Linked DNA regions of Homo sapiens: region 2 is linked to region 1. Evidence: fine-mapped expression QTL. A gene starts in region 1. The other region holds a variant in brackets. All regions are shown on one strand. Distances are from middle to middle. Region 1 holds the start of ARHGAP33 (Rho GTPase activating protein 33). Region 2 overlaps PRODH2 (proline dehydrogenase 2).

The links. PIP is the estimated chance that this variant, and not a neighbour inherited with it, causes the effect.
Region 2: its variant is fine-mapped to the expression of ARHGAP33 in whole blood (TOPMed, PIP above 0.99).

What each region holds. Positions count from the first base shown.
Region 1 is chr19:35,770,605-35,780,215 of GRCh38, reverse strand. ARHGAP33 (Rho GTPase activating protein 33) reads right to left here and starts at 4,652. Exons shown (of 21, transcript NM_001366178.1): 1 at 4,552-4,652; 2 at 2,474-2,571; 3 at 2,308-2,392; 4 at 1,856-1,936; 5 at 1,615-1,752; 6 at 1,092-1,184; 7 at 1-5. The coding sequence starts at 4,557. PROSER3 (proline and serine rich 3) reads right to left here. Exons shown (of 11, transcript NM_001367856.1): 11 at 9,050-9,611. RefSeq lists enhancers at 1,309-2,193, 2,194-3,079, 5,101-5,160 and a silencer at 4,391-4,870.
Region 2 is chr19:35,795,312-35,806,979 of GRCh38, reverse strand. PRODH2 (proline dehydrogenase 2) reads left to right here. Exons shown (of 10, transcript NM_021232.2): 6 at 150-305; 7 at 384-550; 8 at 3,902-4,012; 9 at 4,704-4,789; 10 at 6,758-6,992. The coding sequence ends at 6,942. It also overlaps the pseudogene TEX14BP. Among named protein-coding and RNA genes, the nearest start is that of PRODH2, 12 kb to the left of the region's middle. RefSeq lists an enhancer at 1-47. The variant GC/C (reference allele first, on the strand shown) is at 3,032.

The sequences.
Region 1 (9,611 bases):
TCCAGCTGAAATAGAGGTGGAATGTGGCAAGGACAGGTCAGAAGACGGTGTTAGTGCAGGCATACCAAGCTCCTCCGCGCTGGGTGAGGCCACTGCCCGCCCCCGTCAAGAGCCCCTGTCACTCAGAGCTATTGGTCAAACACCTAGATTCCTGTTTGTAGGGATGCAGCCCTGGCACCCTCTGCGGGTGGGGAAACCTCTAAGAAAAACCCCTTTATTTCCCCTCACATGTCCCAGGACTCTCCCACCCAAAGGCTTCCCCACCTGAAGGCTTCCCCATCCACCTCTGCACCTTCATCCTCCACAGCAGATGCCACACGGTTGCCATCTAAAATCTCTCTGTGCTGGGCGTGGTGGCACACGCCTGTAATCCCAGCACTTTGGGAGGGTGAGCCTGGAGAATTGCTTGACCCCAGGAGTTCAAGACCAGCCTGGTCAACATAGCAAAACTCTGTCTCTACAAAACATTTTTTTTTAATTAGCCAGAGGCCAGGCACAGTGGCTCATGCCTATAATCCCAACACTTTAGGAGGCTGAGGTGGGCGGAACACCTGAGGTCAGGAGTTTGAGACCAGTCTGACCAACATGGAGAAACCCAGTCTCTACTGAAAATATAAAATTAGCCGGGCGTGGTGGCACATGCCTGTAATCCCAGCTACTCAGGAGGCTGAGGCAAAAGAATCACTTGAACCTGGGAGGCAGGGGTTGTGGTGGGCGAGATCATGCCACTGCACTCCAGCCTGGGCAACAAGAGTAAAACTCCATCTCAAGAAAAGAAAAAAAACCCCTCTGGTTTAAGCCACTCATAGCCAGGTGTTCTGTGAGTTACAGCCCAACCCATTTCTAACTGATATACATTTAAACCCTTGTATCCTTAAAGCCGAACACCTGCTAACACACACACGTGCACACACACACATGCTCACACACATTCTCTCACAGGCATGCGCCCACACAGACACTAAAATATCAACGCCTCCTCCACTCTGGCTCCTTTCTTTTCTATGCCCACACACACACCGAGGCTGCTTCTCGCCCCTCAGACACCCCCTCACCCACTCGGAATCTCCAAGCCCCCTGCCCAGGCCCACCTCCATCCAGGTGAGCACAGGCCCGCAGTTGAGGTTACTGTCCACCAGTCCTGACAGTGTCTCCAGGTACTGCAGCAGCAGTGGCACCAGCATCTGGGGGCAGGTTGTCAGAGTGGGCCTCTGTGAGTGGACGTGAGAGAGCCCACTGCCCTCCCACACTGCCCTAGCTCGTCTCTGGGCTGAAGTTCATCCTGAACACATGGGTGCTGCTCAGCTGTTAGGTACTGAGATATGGGCATATGAATGAATAAGCAGGCTGGGCCAAGCTCTTGAGTACCCTGGTTGGCATGACCATGGTGACCCTCCCATGGGACCCCCTGGAACTCCCCATGATCCTAAAACTTAGCAAAGCTAAATGTAGCAGAAGCCTACTACGTTTCTAAGGCTTCTCCATTCATTCAGATTGGTTGGGACTTGGGCCATACCAGTATTTAAATATTTCTCTATCCCGCTGCCTTGATGATTTCACACTGTGGATGAGGACACACTCATGAGGCAGGGGCTGAGACAACAAGCAGGTTACCTGGGCAGCCCTGGCACCCTCGGGGGGCGGGGGAAGCTCCGGAAGGCAGGAGAACCTCCGGTCAAATATGCACCGGTGGAGGTGGGCATCCAGGGAACGAAAGTCATCGTAACTCCGGAGAACCGGCCAGGAACGGCCCTGTGGGAGCAGAGGGACAGAAGGGAGCAGGGGCCCCATGACACCGAGCTGAGGACTACAGTGGCCATTCTCTCAGGCTAGATGAGAGGCGGGATGGCCTCACCTGACAGGTCACCTGCACCCCGAACACCAGCTCATTCTCTCCAGAGAGGCTGGGCCCTTCACGGTCTGGAGACAGCAGGAGCTGCAGAGGGAAAGCAAGGCCCAGGTGGACTTTTGTCCCAGTCCTGACCTCCTGGGGATGGCACTATCTAGGGACGGGTTTGTGACTCCCTTCTGGACCTCCCCGAGGACAGGGCCTGGTGATGTCCTGGTCCCTGACATAGAGCAGATACCTAACAAAAGTTGTTGTTGAATGAATAAAAGAACAAATGGATGAATGAATGAGCAGCTCTCCCCATCTGCTGTGGCTCCTGCAACTTTTGCTACTGACTGCTCAGACGCGTGCAGCAGCCAGTCACAGGGATAAGTTTCAGAAGCAAAGCACCTGATATCGTTGCAAGGTTGGGTAGGATATTGTCTTCCCTCCTGGGTGCAAATGCAAAGCCCCCATACCTGAATGTGGCCAAAGTCAACGTTCTCGTAGTGGAAATGGGCGCAGTCAGCCAGCCGCGGGAAGGGGCCTCGAGGAGCTGAGAGCCTGGGAGACAGGGGATGCGTCACCAGCAGCTCCTTGAGTCTCCCCAGCTCCTAGCTGAGCCCTTTCCTCCCTCACCCTCACCTCTTCCCAGGCTTCCCCTTCACACTGGGCCCCCCAGCAGTGGGTAGAGGCTGCACCGAGCCCTCCCCTGGGCCATCCAGGCTGTCAGTGCTGCGTGCCTGTAGAGCAGAAAGAATCAGAGGCCCCCAGAGATGGGAGCAAAGAGACAACGAGAGCATTGTTATCTGGCAGCGCGGGTCCAGAGCCCCGGGCGCTCCACACACCGCCCTGAGCATGAAGCAGGATGGCAGGTCGGGGGAGGTGAGGGCTGGGCTGAGGACAGGACTGCTTCTTCGTGTGTGGTCTGGGGTGGGGGACTGGAGAAGCAGGGGCCAGACGTGAGGCGGGGCAACAGGATGGAGAGCATGCTGGTCCCATCTCTCCCTGCTGAAAACCCTTCCGTAGCCCCTGCAGAGTACAGTGATCTCCTACCACTGTCTAGACAATCACAACTCCCATCTCATCAGCCTTCCTGCTTCCAGCCTCTCCCCTCCTGCCAGCTTTTCCGCAATAGCCTGGATCGTTTTCAGAAAACACAAATCTGGCTCTATTTCTCCATAGATCCTGGGCCTTCAATGACTCCCTGTTGTCTTCAAGACGAAGTCTGAATTCTCTGGTCTGATAATCGAGACTTCCCTGAGCTGATTTCTGTTTACCTCTCCAGTCCCATCTCTTCCCATTGCCCCCACTCTCAGAGCTCTTGAACTTCTAAGAGTCCAAAAAAAGCACCCTCTTCTCATTTCCTTCTAGGCCTTTGCAAAGGCTGTTCCCTCAGCCTGGAACACTCGCCCCACCTTTCCCTGGGTACATTCATCCTCACTCCCACCCCTCAGGTCCCAACTCACATGTGCCCTCCTCCAGGAAGTTCTCCCTGACCCTTCAGGCTGCACCTGGCATCTCCTCTGGACTCTCTCCATCCCCTGAGGTTCCCCCATCCCAGGTTCCATGCCTTGACCAGAGCTTCTCCCTTCACAGCTCTGATCACTCTGAGATGGCACTGGTGGTGACAAGTTCATCTCTCTCATTGGACTATGACCGGCCTCCCAGAAGGAGGGCCCCAGACTGAGCTCCCCAGCATAGAGCTGGGCATTGAGTTGGTGTTCAGACATGATTGTTCCTGATTCTTTTCTGGGTCCCCAGTGCCAGCCCAGTCGCGCGCAGCAGGGACTGGGTAAAATCTGATGAATAAATTAACCAGCTGCCAGACAGATTCACTGGGCTGTAGCGTCTCCCTGCTCCATGTCCCTGCAACCCCCAGTCACCCTCAGGGTCTCACCCTCAGGGTCTGTCCCCCTCCAGCCCATAAGGTTCCCCAAGGCAGGATGGGAGCTGACTCTCTCTGTGCCTGGAGCGTGGGGCCTGCACAGAGGCGGTCTCAGTGAATGTCTGCTAAGTGAGGGAATGAATGGATGAATGAGCGGGAGCAGCATGGTGGGAGAGGGAAATGGTGGGGGAGGGGGATGAGGACAAGGAGATGGAGCAGACCCGAGGATCAAGGGAGGTACAGTGCTGGCCTGTTGGGGTGGAGTAAGGAAGGAGTGGCTGGAGAGACGAGGCAAAGGCTCAGACTGATGCGGGGCGGGGGGGATTGAGAGGAACTGGGATAGGGTGAAAATGAGGGAGAAGGAGAAGAAAAGGGTCAGGCTGGGGATGGAGCGGGTGGGGGGTGGGGCTCGGGAATGAGAAAGGGGCTGTGGGGAGGAGGAGGGGGCTCCGCCGGGGAGGGCTGAGGGCTGGCAGAAGGATGCCGAGGAAGGTGCTGGGATGGGAGCTGGGGAAGGACCCAGGAGCCTCAGGAGGCCCCTGCAGGGGCCACTTGGGTGGCGCGGGTCCCTTCCTGGACTAGCCCCGCCTCCTCCCAGCCCAGGCCCTAGGTCCCTGTCACCCCATCCAGGGCGTGGAAGACGGGGATGCGCGCTTAGGGGGCGGGGTCGAGGTACGGGCTGGGACCCGGGATGGGGCCGCAGGACGGGAGGGACCACGGCTGAAGCACAGGCCGCGGGATCGGGCGGGGCCGGGGGCGGGGCGCGCGGGGCGGGGCTGCGCACGGACAGACTGACATCCGGACGGACAGGCTGACGGCCGCGTGGGACCCTTACCACCATGGTCGCGTAGCCTCCTCAGGCCCCGGCCGCGCTCGACCCCTCGCTCGCCGTTCTCGTCGCCGCTGCCGCCGCCATGGCGACACAAAGGGGAGGGCGCGAGCCGCGCGCGGGCGGCTGCAGACCCCGCCCCTAACGGCTGCCCGTGGCTCCGGCGCGCGCCCCACGGGGGCGGGGGGCAGCGGGAACGCGGCGCTGCTTCTCATTGGCTCCGCCCTTGGCCTTAGGCCGATGCCCCGCCCACCCGGAGGCTTCTCATTGGTTTCACCTTGGGCTCCGCCCCGGCTCTGTGTCCTCGGTCCCGCCCCTCGAAGTTTGACAGCGCCACGCCCATGACTGCTTTTCATTGGCTGTCATCGCCCTCCTGAGACAAGCCCCCAGGTTCTTTATGCTTTGCTTCCGACACTTCCAACACCAAGCAATGGACCCTACCTTTCGTCCACTCCCAGTGTCCATTCTTCTGACTTTTTTATTTTTATTTCTTTAAGAGACAGGGTCTCACTCTGTCGCCCAGGCTGGAGCGCAGTCCTGCAATCGTGGCTTACTGCAGCCTCAACCTCCTGGGCTCAAGCGATACCTCCCATGTAGCTGGGACTACAGGCGTGCGCTACCACGCCTGGCTAATTTTTTTTAGACATGGGGGTCTCACTATGTTACCCAGGATGGTCTTGATCTCTGGGGCTCAAGAGATACTCCCTCCTCAGCCTCCTTTCAAAGCGCTGGGATGACAGGCGTGAGCCACCACGCCAGCCAGCCCCTGATAGTCTTAATTGGATTCTCCCACGGCCTCAGAGCAGTGCCCAGTTCCTTAAGCAGCTTTTCAAAGTCCCAGTCCCAAGTCTCACCTTTTCAGTCCTGATCCCGACCCCGCTCACATAATGCCGAGGACGCTCCGCCCATGGACGTTTCTCGTTGCCTCATATACCTTGCCTAGGACGTAACCCGAGGCTTTCTGCGATTTGGCCTCCCCTGCCCACTGGACATTTTCTTGTTTCCCCTTCTACTGCTTATTACGGGCCAATCTCCAGCCTTGATTTTTTTTTTCTAGGAAAATGCTTAGGGGGAAATGCCAGATCATGCTTATGCCCCCCATAAAGCCATTCCCAATGGAGCCTGCTAATACTGAGCATGCCCAGATAACACTGTAATAACGCCCTTCACAGGAGGGTCTCTCCTTAGTCATGCCCTCAACAAATTCTCATCTCAGAGGGTCTTGGTCTGTTCATTCATTCATTCATTCATTCATTCACTCAAACTCTAATCAATTTGTACATACATCAACAACCAAACCAGGAGAAAATATACCCTGCCCACATTGGAGCTCAAAAGCTACTGGGAGAAGACAATGAACAAAATTAACATTAAACAAAATATAGAATATTAGGCCAGGCGTGGTGGCTCACGCCTGTAATCCCAACACTTTGGGAGGCCGAGGCGGGCAGATCACTTGAGGTCAGGAGTTCGACACCAGCATGGCCAGCATGGAGAAACCCCGTCTCTACTAAAAATACAAAAATTAGCCAGGTGTGGCGGCGGGCGTGCCTGTAATCCCAGCTACCTGGGAGGCTGAGGCAAGACAATGGGTTGAACCCAGGTGGCAGAGTTTGCTGTGAGCCGAGATCGCGCCACTGCACTCCAGCTTAGGTGTTGAAGTGAGACTCTGTCTCAAAAAAAAAAAAAAAAAAAAAAAAAAAAAGCTGGGGACAGTGGCTCACGCCTGTAACCCCAGCACTTTGGGAGGCCGAGGCGGGAGGATCACAAGGTCAGGAGTTCGAGACCAGCCTGGCCAATATGCTGAAACCCCGTCTCTACTAAAAATACAAATATTAAAATTAGCCAGGTGTGGTGGCGTGTGCCTGTAATCCCAGCTACTCAGGAGCCTGAGACAGGAGAATTGCTTGAACCCAGGAGGCGGAGGTTGCAGTCAGCCGAGATTTTGCCACTGCACTCCAGCCTGGGAGACAGAGCAAGACTCTGTCTGAAAAAAAAAAAAAATATTAGAAGGTGATTCATTCTATGGAGAATAATTAAGCAAGGGCTGGTGAAAGGGAGTGCTGAGGGAGAGGTGAATGTGCAGTTACTTATGTACTAAATTTGCTGACCTCACTCTCATCACAGGGATTTCCCACACGATATTCCTTCTGTCTAGTGTTTCCCCATCAACCCCTGCAGTGATTTTTTTTTTTATTTTTTAATTTTTCTGGGTACATAACAGGTATATTTAGGTATATATATTGAGGGGGCACATGAGATGTTTTGATACAGGCATGCAATGTGTAATAATCACATCATGGAGAATGGGGTCCTGCAGTGATTTTAAAACAGCTGCAAATTCTCTGACACTCTTCTTATCAAGACGCGGACTCTATGATTGCTTTCTATGAATCTGGGTGGGACTAGGATAGCTTCAACCAATAGAAAACAGTGGAAGTGACACGGTGATTTCTAAGGCTATGTGATGAAAGGCAATGCAGCTTCTTGACCAATGTTCTCGTCCACTGGAATGAGCTGTAGAACCATGGTGCATCATATGCGAAGTGTGACTATGCTGAAGCAGACATGCTTTGAGGAAGCCCAGGCCAATGGAGCTATGTATAGGCATTAGTCAATAGTCCCAGTCAGACTGGGAGAAGACCACGGAAGAAGTTCTGGAGGATTCTACTCCACAGCCATCAAGTCTATCAAGTCACCTTTGAGTCTTTCCAGGTGAATCCCCAGACATCATGGAGGAGACAAAAATTGTCCCCATATGAGCCCTGTCCAAACCTCTGACTCTCAGAATCCATGAGCATAATAAAATAATTGTTTTATGCCACTAAGTTTTGGGAGCGGTTATCCAACTAGAGTAATTAGGACAGCCCTTTGTTAACTAGATAATTTCTACCTGTCTCAGCTTAAGTGTAACTTCCTCAGGAATGCTTCTAGACCCCACCCGTGACCCAGCTAGATCAGGTTCTGCTACTATAGTATCTTTTATTTCTCCTTATATCTAAACAGCTATTTTTCTTGTCAATTACATTTTTTTGTTAGTTTGTTTGTTTTTGAGATGGAGTCTCACTCTGTTGCCCAGGCTGAAGTGCAGTGGCACCATCTCAACTCACTGCAGCCTCCGCCTCCCATGTTCAAGCAATTCTCCTGCCTCAGCCTCCTGAGCACCTGGGACTACAGGCACCCGCCACCAGGCCCAGCTAATTTTTAGTGGAGACAGAGTTTCACTATATTGCCCAGGCTGGTCTCTAACTCGTGACCTCAAGTGATCTGCTCGCCTTGGCCTCCCAAAGTGCTGAGATTACAGGCCTGTGCCACTGTGCCCACTCTGATTTCATTTAAATGTATGGTTTGCTTAGAAAGGTTAGAAACAGGCCGGGTGCGGTGCCTCACACCTGTAATCCCAGCACTTTGGGAGGCCGGGGCAGGTGGATCATGAGGTCAGGAGTTCGAGACCAGCCAGACCAACATGGTGAAACCCTGTCTCTACTAAAAACACACACACACACACAAATTAGCCAGGTGAGGTGGCATGCACCTATAATCTCAACTACTCGGAAAGCTGAGGAAGGAGAATCACTTGAACCTGGAAGGCAGAGGTTACAGTGAGCCGAGGTTGCACCACTACACTCCAGCCTGGGTGACAGAGCAAGACTCCATCTCAAAAAAAAAAAAAAAAAAAAAGAAAGAAAGAAAGGTTGAAAACAAATATTATATTTACCATGTGACATACAGAAGTTACTAGAAATCCATCTTATCCCTCCATTTTGTAAATGCAGATATCAAAACAACCCCAATCATATATTCTCCATCATTTTATTATGAAAAGTTTCTTTTCTGAGACGGAGTCTCGCTCTGTCACCCAGGCTGGAGTGCAGTGGCGCAATCTCGGCTCACTGCAAGCTCTGCCTCCCAGGTTCAAGTGATTCTCCTGCCTCAGCCTTCCGAGTAGCTGGGGCTACAGGCGCCCGCCACCACGCCCGGCTAATTTTTTGTATTTTTAGTAGAGACGGGGTTTCACCGTGTTAGCCAGGATGGTCTCGATCTCCTGACCTCGTGATCCGCCCGCCTTGGCCTCCCAAAGTGCTGGGATTACAGGCATGAGTCACCGCGCCCGGCCATGAAAAGTTTCTAAATTACAGCAAAGTTGAAAAATTTTACAGTGGACACCCGCATATCCGCCACTTAGATCCTACCATGAACACTTTGCTGTATTTGCTTTATCTCACATCTACCTATTACACTATTTATCCATCAATCCAACTCATCTCTGGATGCATTTCAAAATAAATTGTCGACATTGGTTTATTGTTCCCTAAATATTTCAGTGTACATACTTTTTTTTTTCTTTTCTTTTTTTTAAAGACAGGGTCTAGCTCTGTAGCCCAGGCTGGAGTGCAGTGGCATGATCTTAGTTCACTACAATACAGCCTTGAACTCCTGGGCTCAAGTAAACCTCCTGCCTCAGCGCCCCTCCCCGCCCCTAGTAATGGGACTGCAAATCGTGTGCCACCACATCTGGCTATTTATTTACTTATTTATTTTTGTAGAGACAGGTCTTGCTGTGTTGCCCAGGGTAGTCTCAAACTCCTGGCCTCAAGTGATCCTCCCGCCTTGGCCTCCCAAAGAAGTCAGATTACAGGCGTATCTTTAACTGGCGTTCAATATTTTCTTTTGAGGTAAACTTTACATACAATGAAATTCACACACTTCACTAAGTTTCATAAGTGCATACACCTGTGTAACCCAAACCCCTCCCCAGCATGGCAACTAGTTTTTTTTTTTAATGTAGCCTCTAAAGCAAGTGTCAGAGAGAGAGAGAAAGAGAGAGAAATTATCTTTTTTTTTTTTTCCACTGCAACCTCTGCCTTCTGAGTTCAAGCAATTCTCTTGCCTCAGCCTCCTGAGTAGCTGGGATTACAGGCACCCACCACCAATGCCTGGCCAATTTTTGTATTTTTAGTAGAGACATTTCACCATGTTGGCCAGGCTGGTCTTGAACCCCTGACCTCAAGTAATCTGCCCACCTGAGCCTCCCAAAGTGCTGGGATTACAGGCGTGAGCCACCA
Region 2 (11,668 bases), 26 kb before region 1:
ACAGGTAACCCCTCCTGCTGGAACCAGCACCTCCGGGCCTCCCTCAGCCGCCTGCATCGGGTGGCACAGGTAACCCCTCCTGCTGGGATCTGGCTCCACTGCCCCTGCTGGACACCCGGGGCCCTGACCGTCGTCTCTGTCGCCATCAGTATGCCCGGGCCCAGCACGTGCGGCTCCTGGTGGATGCGGAGTACACCTCACTGAACCCTGCGCTCTCGCTGCTGGTGGCTGCCCTGGCTGTGCGCTGGAACAGCCCGGGTGAAGGCGGGCCCTGGGTGTGGAACACCTACCAGGCCTGTCTAAAGGTGTGCAGTGTGTTCCAGGAGGTACAGGCTGGGGTCCCCACACCCTGACCTACCAGAACCTGCCTGCGTGCCCTATAGGACACATTCGAGCGGCTGGGGAGGGATGCAGAGGCTGCGCACAGGGCCGGCCTGGCCTTCGGAGTGAAGCTGGTACGAGGTGCATATCTGGACAAGGAGAGAGCGGTGGCCCAGCTCCATGGGATGGAAGACCCCACTCAGCCTGACTATGAGGCCACCAGTCAGAGGTAGGCCCGGGCCAGCTGGCCTCTGCAGGAAATAATAACACCTAGTGGTTGGGTGCAGTGGCTCATACCTGTAATCCCAGTGCTTTGGGAGGCTGAGGCTAGAGATTCACTTGAGAGCAGGAGTTGGAGACCAGCCTGGGCAACACAGGGAGACCCCATCTCTAAAAAATTTTAAAAATAGTCAGGTGTGGTAGCACATGCCTGTGGTTCCAGCCACTTAGGAGGCTGAGGTGGGAGGATCACTTGAGGCCAGGAGTTCAAGGCTGCAGTGAGCCATGACTGCACCACTGCACTTCAGCCTGGGCAGCAGAGCGAGAATCTGTCTCAAAACAAACAAACAAACAAACAAACAAACAAAACAAAACAAAAAGAAATCCTTACAGTGGCCTCTAAGCCCCACATGCTCCCTGTCACTTCCCTAACTTTCCCTCCCTCTCTTCCTCTCCCTCACTCCACTACAGCCACACTGGCCTCCTCCATGTTACCCAGGGGCTTGGCACATCCTGTTTCCACTGCCTGGGACATTCCCACTGCAGACAGTGGCATGGCCCCATCCCTCACCTCCTTAGATCTTTACTTCTTGGTACCTTCTCTGGGGGCCACAGGGACTCAGCCAGGCTACAGAGCAGGTGGCCTAGCCACGCTTGGAATCCAGGCTCATGTCCAAGATCTGCAGGGGCTCCAGGGCACGTTTGTGTACCATCAGCTTAACTGGCACCAAGCCAGGCACAGTGGTGTGCACCTGTCATCCCAACTACTTGGGAGGCTGAGGCAGGAAGATTGCTTGAGCCCAGGGGTTTGAGCCCAATCTGCACAACATAGCAAGACCCCATCTGTAAAAAACATTAAACACAAAAAATTATGGCCGGGCATGGTGGCTCACGCTTGTAATCCCGGCACTTTGGGAGGCTGAGGCAGGCAGATCACCTGAGGTCAGGAGTTTGAGACCAGCCTGACAAACATGGTGAAACCCTGTCTCTACTAAAAATACAAAAATTAGCCGGGTGTGGTGGCTTGCACTGGTAATCCCAGCTACTTGGGAGGCTGAGGAAGGAGAATCACTTGAACCCAGGAGGCAAAGGTTGTAGTGAGCCAAGATTGAGCCACTACACTCCAGCCTGGGCGACAGAGTGAGACTCCATCTCAAAATAATAATAATAATTTGCACTATTATTTTAAATATTGAAATATAATTCACGTATCATAGAATTCACAATTTTAACATGTACAATTCAGTGGAGTTTAGTATATTCCCAAAATTGTGCAACCATCACCACTCTTTGATTCCACAATATTTTCATCACCCCAAAAAGTAACCTCATACCAATGAGCAGTCAGCTGCCTTCTGTTCCCTCCTCCCCTCAGCCCCTGGAAACCACTAACCTACTTTTTGTCTCTGTGGATTTGCCTATTCTAGACAATCTTATAAATGGAATCATACAATATGTGCCCTTGTATATTTGGCTTTTTTCATTTGTTTTTTAAGTTATTTTTGAGACAGGGTCTCACTCTGTCGCCCAGGCTGGAGTGCAGTGGTGCGATCTTGGCTCACTGCAGCCTTGACTCCCCAGGCCCAAGCCATCCTCCCACCTCAGTCTCCCCAGTAGCTAAGACCACCAGCGCACACCACCATACCCAACACATTTTTTTATTTTTGTAGACACGGGGTCTCCCTATGTTGCCCAGGCTAGTCTTGAACTCCTAGGCTGAAGCAGCCCTCCTGCCTTGGCCTCCCCAAGTGCTGGGATTATAGGCGTAAGCCAGCATGTCCAGCCACAACTGTGCATTTTAAAGGCAGACTAGCCTACCGATAAGGAGCCTGGGCTCTGGAGCATCAGACAGCCTGAGTTCAAATCCCAGCCTGGCCACCTCTAGCTGTGTGACCTGGGGACAAGAGATAGAACCCCTCTCAGCTTCAGTCTCCCCACTCTGTTAAAATGGAATAAGAACATCTGCCTCCCAGAGTTGATGTGGGAATTAGATGAGTGATTAGCTTTCTCCAAAGCAAACAGAATTCTGCACAAAGGGTTTTAACTAAAGGAAATGTGGTGAAGAGGCTGTTTATAGAAGTGTCAGGGGCCAGGTGCAGGGCCTCACACCTGTAATCCCAGCACTTTGGGAGCCCAAGGTGGGAGGATCGCTTGAGCCCAGGAGTTGGAGGATTCCGTGAGCCGAGATCACGCCACTGCACTCCAACCTGGGCAACAGAGTGAGACCCAGTCTCTAAAAAACACAAAACGAAAAGGAAGTGTGGGCAAAGTCAGGGAAGCTATTAGGAAGCTATTTTGACCCCTATGCTGTAGTTGAAGGAGAGGGGCCACCTTAGGGAGCTGTGGCCACACACAGAACACAGTCAGGGTGAGCAGGGAGGGGCCGAGGTGAGACACCCACACTCCTTCCTGCACATGACTCCATGGGGGATGTGGGGCAAAAGTGTCAGCTTCCTGAGGGGCAGAGAAGGGTAGAAAACAGGTCTGGGGG[GC/C]GATAGGGAAGACCCACAGAGGATGTGAAATACATAGCGTGGCCCGTGGCCTGCAGCATGCTTGCAAGGTGTTTGCCAATCTATTTCCTCTTCCATATCAGTACCCAGACAGTGTCTTCCTTCCTTTTCACAGTTGCGCGATAGAGCACTATCTTCTCTGTACCACAATTTCCTTAGCCAGTTCCCCATTTATGGACATTTGGGCTGTTGCTAGTGATGTTCTGTTGACAATGCAGCAGTGATAACCTTGGGGAAATGTCATCTTGTGCATGTGATGCGACCCTCTCCTGTGAGACCGCCGCCACTGTCCCAAAGACTTCATATCCCCCTTATCTCACTCCATCCTCACAACAGTGTTGCTCGGAAACTCACAGTGACAAGAGATTAACATGGGGCCGGGTGCGGTGGCTCACGCCTGTAATCCCAGCACTCTGGGAGGCTGAGGCGGGCAGATCACCTGAGGTCAGGAGTTCGAGTCCAGCCTGGGCAACATGGCGAAACTCCGTCTCTACTAAAAATACAAAAATTAGCCGGGTGTGATGGTGCACGCCTGTAATCCCAGCTGCTCGGGAGGCTGAGGCAGGAGAATCCCTTGAACCTGGGAGGTGGAGGTTGCAGTGAGCTGAGATCATGCCACTGCATTCCAGCCTGGGCAACAGAGTGACTCCATCTCAAAAACAAACAAACAAAACCCCCAAAAAACCCCAGAAGATGAAAGTGGCTCAGAGAAGTGATGTCCCTTACAACTGGTGCAGATGGAACAGAGTACTGGTTCCAGAGACCCCTTGCTTAGGAGCACCCCACCCACCCCAGTCGCTGGGGCCTGACCCTCGCTCACCAGGTGAGCTGAACAGAGCATCTCCCTTCAGTTACAGCCGCTGCCTGGAACTGATGCTGACGCACGTGGCCCGCCATGGCCCCATGTGCCACCTCATGGTGGCTTCCCACAATGAGGAATCTGTTCGCCAGGCAACCAAGCGGTATGAGGTGGAGGGATGGGCGGGAAATAGGTGCCCACAAAAGGGCCCTCCCTTCCTCTCCTTTGCTCAAATGCCAGAGATGGACAGAGGTGTTCTGGGGAGAATTTTAAAAATATTTATAGCCAGGCATGGTTGGCACATGCCTATAATCCCAACACTTTGGGAGGCGAAGGTGGAGGATTGTTTGAGACCAGCCTGGGCAACACAGCAAGACCCCATTTCTACAACAAATTAAAAAAAAAAAAACAGCTGGGTGTGGTGGCGCACACCTGTAGTCCCAGCTATTCCGGAGGTGGAAGGATCACTTGAGCCCAAGAGGTTGAGACTGCAGTGAGCAGTGCTTGAGCCACTGCACTCCAGCCTGGGTAACAAAGCAAGTCCCTACCTCTTAAAACAAACAAACAAACAAACACATTAACCCCTGCTATACCTGTAAGTCCTTATAGGTCCCAGATGGACAAGACGTTGCCCCTTATTTGCTGGGGCATGAGGAGGTCTGAGGGCTCCAGGGAACTGGCTGGGAGTCACTGGGGGACCTTCAAGGAATGCAAAGGACTGGTTATTATGTATCATTGAGTTTGGAAATACTTCAATGTTTGAATTACTGGAGCCGCCATATGGGTGCATAGTGGCTGACTTTAAGCTGTAGATGCAGCCACAGTCTGGACTGATGATGTGGCCTTTTCTGTAGCATGTGGGAGCTGGGCATTCCTCTGGATGGGACTGTCTGTTTCGGACAACTTCTGGGCATGTGTGACCACGTCTCTCTAGCACTGGGTATGTGAATGGCTCCCCCACCCCCATCAAGCCCCAGGCCTTACTCCCTCCCAGCCAGAGCCCTTCTCCTATTCCCAACCAAGGCCCAGCCTCCAGATCCTTCCAGAGAGATCTGTCATTCCAGTGTCTGTGGGCCTTCCAAGGCTGTGTCTCTGTGTCTGCCGTCTGTCATTTCTGCTGGTTCTTGATCATGGTGTATTATTTCTTGTGTGTTTTGTTATCTTTACTGTGCTGCTCCTCAGGGCCTGACACCAGGTAATTAATGTTTCCTTCTGCCAGGTGCTAAGCAGAACGAAATCACTTTATCCTAAATTCATAGCTTGAGGTTTCTTGAAACACCCCACTGGCACAAATTTGAGCTGCAAATACATAAGGGGGTTAACCCATAGCCCCAACTTCGCAGAGGTGGATTTTTCTGTTTTCTTCCTTGATCTGTTTATGGCCAAGACCATTTCCTGGGACTGGGGGAAGGTTGCAGGGTTGACTTTTTATTAACTCTTACTCTAAGGGTGTAGATTTTTGGGTTCCAGCTTAACTTGGGGAAGTTCTCCCTTATAACTCTCACCTCAGGCTTGAAGACTGACTCAATGTCCCCCCGCAACTCTGTGAATTCATCAGATAGCACCTCGGTTTTGCTTTTGGGGCAGAAGTGGCTTGCTGTGTGTCTCTTCTCTCTCTGGGTTCTCATTTTCTCTTTTATTTTATTTTATTTATTTATTTATTTTGAGACAGAGTCTTGCTCTGTTACCCAGGCAGGAGTCCAGTGGTGCCATCTTGGCTCACTGCAACCTTTGCCTCCCAGGTTCAAGCGATTCTCCTGCCTCAGCCTCCCAAGTAGCTGGGATTACAGACGGCTGCCACCACGCCCAGCTAATTTTTGTATTTTTAGTAGAGATGGGGTCTTACCATGTTTGCCAGGCTGGTCTCAAACTCCTGACCTCAGGTGATCTGCCTGCCTTGGCCTCCCAGAGTTGCTGGGATTACAGGCGTGAGCCACCACGCCCAGCTTATTTATTTTGTTTTTGAGACAGAGTCTGGCTCTGTCGCCCAGACTTGAGTGCAGTGGCACGATCTCAGCTCACTTCAACCTCCGCCTCCTGGGTTCAAGTGATTCTCCTGCCTCCGCCTCCCCAGTAGCCGGGATTATAGGCACGCACCACCATGCCCAGCCAATTTTTGTATTTTTAGTAGAGACGGGGTTTCACCATGTTGGCCAGGTTGGTCAGTGTGCTGAGATTGTGCCACTGCCCTCCAGCCAGGGCGACAGACCAAGACTCTGTCTCAAAATTAATTAATTAATTAATTAATCAATTGAGATAAAATAAAAACAGTTAGCTGGGCGTGGAGGTGCATGCCTGTGGTCCCAGCTATTCAGGAGGCTGAGGTGGGAGGATTGTTTGAGCCTGGGAGGTCAAAGCAGCAGTGAGTCGTGATCACACCACTGCACTCCAGCCTGGGCCACAGGGCTAGACCCTGTCTAAGAGAGAAAAAAAAAAGTTTGCTCCAGGACTTTTAGCTTTTTCAGTTAGAAATTTTATCCAACTCACTTAATCTGCCATGTTCTCAGAAACAGAAGTCTCTGTTCCAGGTGGGGACTGGGGAGTGTCCCCCCAGCCCAAGCCCATACCCTGTCAACACTCCAGGCTGGGCATGGTGGCTCACGCCTGTAATCCCAGCACTTTGGGAGGCCAAAGCAGGAGGATAACTTGAGGTCAGGAGTTCGAGACCAGCCTGGCCAACATGGTGAAACCCCATCTCTACTAAAAATACAAAAATGAGCCGGGCGTCGTGGCAAGCGCCTATAATCCCAGCCATTCTGGAGGCTGAGGCATGAGAATCGCTTGAACCTGGAGGCAGAGCTTGCAGTGAGCTGAGATTGCACCACTGCACTCCAGCCTGGGCAACAGAGCGAGACTCTGTCTCAGAAAAACACCAAAAACGAAAAAACAAAACCCACTCTCCCTGCAGGGCAGGCCGGCTATGTAGTGTATAAGTCCATTCCCTATGGCTCCTTGGAGGAGGTAATCCCCTACCTGATCCGGAGGGCCCAGGAGAACCGGAGCGTGCTTCAGGGTGCCCGCAGGGAACAGGAGCTGCTCAGCCAAGAACTGTGGCGGCGGCTGCTGCCAGGATGCCGAAGGATACCCCACTAGCACCCCTGAGGGGGTCATGTGGTCAATAAAAGTCCTTAGGTGCTGCCTAAGCTGCTGTCCTGCACTGACGCCGCCTCCTTGGGGAAGGGCTCATCTTGACCTCAGCCAGCCCAAGCTAGGGGTTTTGCAGTTCAAGAGAGATCGTTAGGCTGGGAGTGGTAGCTCTCGCCTATACTCCCAGCGCTTTGGGAGGCCGAGGTGGGAGGCGTGCTTCAGTCTAGGAGTTCAAGACCAGCCTGGGCAACATAGCAATATTCTTTCTCTACAAAAAATTAAATCAGTAGGGCATGGTGGTGCGTGCCTGTGGTCCCAGCTCGGGAGGCTGAGGCAGGAGGATCACTTGAGCCCAGGGGTTTGAGGCTGCAGTGACCTATGACTGCACCACTGCTCTCCAGTCTGGGTGACAGCAAGAGACTGTGTTTAAAAAAAAAAAAAGAAAAGAAAAGAAAAAGAGGCCGGGCACGGTGGCTCACGCCTGTAATCCCAGCAGTTTGGGAGGCCGAGGCGTGTGGATAACGAGGTCAGGAGATCGAGACCATCCTAGCTAACATGGTGAAACCCCGTCTCTGCTAAAAATACAAAAAATAGCCGGGCGTGGTGGCAGGCGCCTGTAGTCCCAGCTACTCGGGAGGCTGAGGCAAGAGAATGGCATGAATCCAGGAGGCAGAGCTTGCAGTGAGCTGAGATCACGCCACTGCACTCCAGCCTGGGCAACAGAGTGAGACTCAGTCTCAAAAAAAAAAAAAAAGAAAAGAAAAAAAAAAAAAAGATCGTTAGACACCCATTGAGCATAGCCAGGGCATTGACGGAGGACTAAGGAAGCCTCCCTCACCTCTGAGGCAGACCATCCTGGGTTGGGTCTGGCCAGTGACTGATGCAGAACTTTCTTCATCCCAGGGGATGCCTAAAGGAAGGGCACACATGGGGAGCAGACACCAAGGCACTGAAGTCAAGGGGCTCGGCCCAGGCCACTTGGCGAGGGAGGGACAGAAGAAAGAGCCAAGCCATTCTCTCAGTTAATAAGCATTGAATGAAACTAGGTGCAGTGACTCATGCCTGTAATCCCAGCACTTTGGGAGACCAAGGCAGGTGGATTGCTTGAGGTCAGGAGTTTGAGACCAGCCTGGGCAACATAGTGAAACCCCATTATCTCTCAAAAAAAAAAAAAAAAAAAAAAGAAAGAAAGAAATTAGCTAGCCAGGTGCTGTGGCTCACACCTGTAATCCCAGCACTTTGGGAGGCTGAGGCCGGCGGATCACGAGGTCAAGAGATCGAAACCATCCTGCCCAACATGGTGAAACCCTGTCTTTACTAAAAATACAAAAATTAGCCAGGCGTGGTGGCACTCGCCTGTAATCCCAGCTACTTGGGAGGCTGAGGCAGGAGAATCACTTGAACCTGGGAGATGGAGGTTGCAGTGAGCCAAGATCGTGCCACTGCACTCCAGCCTGGCGACAGAGCAGGACTCCATCTTAAAAAAAAAAAAAAAAATTAGCTAGGTGTGGTGGGTGGCCTGTGCTTGTAGTCCCAGCTACTTGGGAGGCTGAGGCAGGAGGTTGGCTTGAGCCCTGGAGGTGGAGGCTGGAGTGAGCTATGATCTTGCCACTGCACACCAGCCCGGGCAACAGAGTGAGATCCTGTCTGAGAAAAACGCCAGGTGCAGTGGCTCATGCCTGTAATCCCAGCACTTTGGGAGGCCGAGGCGGGCAGAAGTCAGGAGATTGAGACCAGCCTGGCCAACATGGTGAAACCCCGTGTCTACTAAAAATACAAAAATGAGCCGGGCATGGTGGCGTGCGCCTGTAATCCCAGCTACTCGGAAGGCTGAAGAAGGAGAATTGCTTGAACCTGGGAGATGCAGGTTGCAGTGAGCCGAGATCGCGCCACTGCACGCCAGCCTGGGCGACAGAGTGAGAATAAAAGCACTGAATGAGGCCTCTTTTGAGCTAGGTTCTGGGGTGAACAACGCTGTGAACACAACAGTGACAAGAACGACCCAAGGCCCTGCCTTACAGGGCTTAGTCCGGTGTGGGTAGACAGCCCCGTCCTCAGACAGTGACAGCCCCGACTGGTCAGGGCTGTGGGGCCCAGGCTGAGTGGCTGGGGCTGTGTTGGGGAAGGGGATGCTACTGCGCAGGCGCTGCGGGAGGCCACTGGTGCTCAAGCACCTCGGATTCCCGCTCATACAGCCGGCCGGATCATGTGGCAGTCAGGTGGCGACCACTATCTAGCCCAACGGTGAGTGCAAAGCCACCAGGACTGGGGTGTGGGCCCAGAACTTTCCCAGAGCTTTCTGGGCCCTCAGATCACCCTCAGACCCTTCCCCCAGCCCTCAGGCCCCTCCCACCCTGTCCTTCTCTTCCGCGGCCCTCAGACCACACCCCTGCCCGCCCCTTTAGCGAACCCTTTCCCCATTCCACTGACCCCTTCCCCAGCCCCAGACACTGTCCTCAGAGCCCCCTTCCCCAGCCTGTAGCCCCCACCCCCAACACACAGACACTTCCCTAGTCCTTAGTCCACGCGTCCCACCCGCGGACCCCCGCACAGTCGGCAGATCCTGCCATCAGCGCCCTCTCCTCCTTCAGAGCGCGCCCGCTGCCCTCAGACCCCATCCACCCCACGGACCCCACAGACGCTGTCCCTAGAGCCTCCCCATGACCCCTCTCACCGCCTCTCAGATCCTAAACCACAGGCGCCTCATCCTCCCACCGCAGCCTTCAGAGCCTCCTCCTGAGCCCTCCGACTCCTTTCCCAAGCTCGGATCCTATCCTCGCAGCCCTTCTGCCACCCTGGCACGCCCGACCCCAGCCCTAAGCCCCCTCCCAGACTCCCGATTGCCTTAGATCCCCCTCAGCTCTCAGCCTCCCTGCGACCCCAGACCTTCTGGTGTGTCGCCCTCCCAGAGCCACCCCCTTTTCTCATTCAGCCACCTCCCTTCCCATCAGACCCCTCCTAAATCCCGTTCCCGTCTAGACTGCGCCCCCAGGACCCCCAGCCAGCTCTGTCTTCATTGTTTTGTTGTGCCCAAAGTTCCAGTCCTTCACATCCCCCTTCCCTGATGAGACCCCCCTAGCGGATCCCTGCCCAGGAGCCGACTGAGCCGCAGCCCACAGATGCCCTCGCAGCCCTTTCGCGCTTCCCAGTGGAGCTGGGCTCCAAGAGGGATCTAGACACCCAGGTGGGCCGTCTGCACCACCTGGCTGTGGCTGGGGGCCCAGGATGGGGCCCGGCCAGGCTCCTGCGGAGAGGTGAGGGCCTGGCTGCAGGTACATCTGTGGCGGCAGGATCAAGGAGCTGTATGGAGGGTGTGGCTTCAGTTGGCCAGTCAGCAGTGGTACCGAACACCGACTGTGTCCCGAGCTCTGTGGTCCCTGATGGGGCTTTAAGGGTGAACATGACCCTTGGACCATTGGGAATGAAATGCAGTGGGATGAGGATGAGACCCTAGACAGTATGGCCTTTCAGGTGGAGGATGCTTGAGTCTTACAGTATAAGAGTCAGCCACGCAAAAAAGGTGAAATGAAGTGGGGAGAGATGGTGGGGTGCAATGGCTCATGCCTGTAATCCCAGCAGTTTGGGAGGCCGAGGCAGGCGGATCACTTGAGGTCAGGAGTTTGAGACCAGCCTAGCCATCATGGTGAAACCTCGTCTCTACTAAAACTACAAAAATCAGCCAGGCATGGTGGCATGTGCCTGTAATCCCAACTACTTGGGAGGCTGAGGCAGGAGAATCATTTGAACCCGGAAGACAGAGGTTGCAGTGAGCTGAGATTGTGCCATTGCACTCCAGCCTGGGCAACAGAGCGAGACCCCGTCTCAAAAGAAAAAAAAAAAGAAGTGGGGAGTGATGGAAGAGGCTGTGCAAACGCTCTGAAGTCAAAATGAACTGCCCATGTATGAGTAGCAGCAGGACTTGGAGAGACGTGAGGCTGAAGTGGCCACAAGTCCACACAGTTAAGGGCCTCTAAAGGAGTGTGAGTTTTGTTGGATTTTGTGTGTGTGATAGGAAACTGTTGGCATTGTAAGCAGGAAATTAACATAATTAACATTAAATTAGGCTGGGCAACCTGTTCCACATGGCTCACACCTATAATCCCAGCACTTTGGGAAGCCGAGACAGGAGGATTGCTTGAGTCCAGGAGTTTGAGACCAGCCTGGGCAACATAGCAAGACCCTATCTCTATTTTAAAAAAATTACCAGGGAGTGGTGGCATCATATGCCTGTAGTCCCAGCTACTTGGGAGGCTGAGCAGGGAGGATTGCTTGAGCCCAAAAGGTCAAGGCTGCACTGAGCCTTGATCAGGCCACTGCACTCCAGCCTGGGCAACAGAGTGAGACCCTGTCTCAAAACAATAACCCATTAAATTAACAATGTACAATTTCTGTTTTGATTTTTGTAAAGTTGGTTGTGTTTCAGGCCACTTTCTGAACTTGCTTACTAGTTTTAATTGTTTTTTTGTTTTGAGACAGAGTTTCACTCTTGTTACCCGGGCTGGAGTGCAATGGTGCAATCTCTGCTCACTGCAACCTCTACCTCCCAGATTCAAGCGATTCGCCTGTCCCAGCCTCCTGAGTAGCTGGGATTACAGGCGCATACCACTACACCTGGCTAGTTTTTTGAATTTTCAGTAGAGAAGGGGTTTCGAACTCTTGACCTCAGGTGATCCACCTGCCTCAGCCTCCCAAAGTGTTGGGATTACAGGCATGAGCCACCACACCCAGCTGA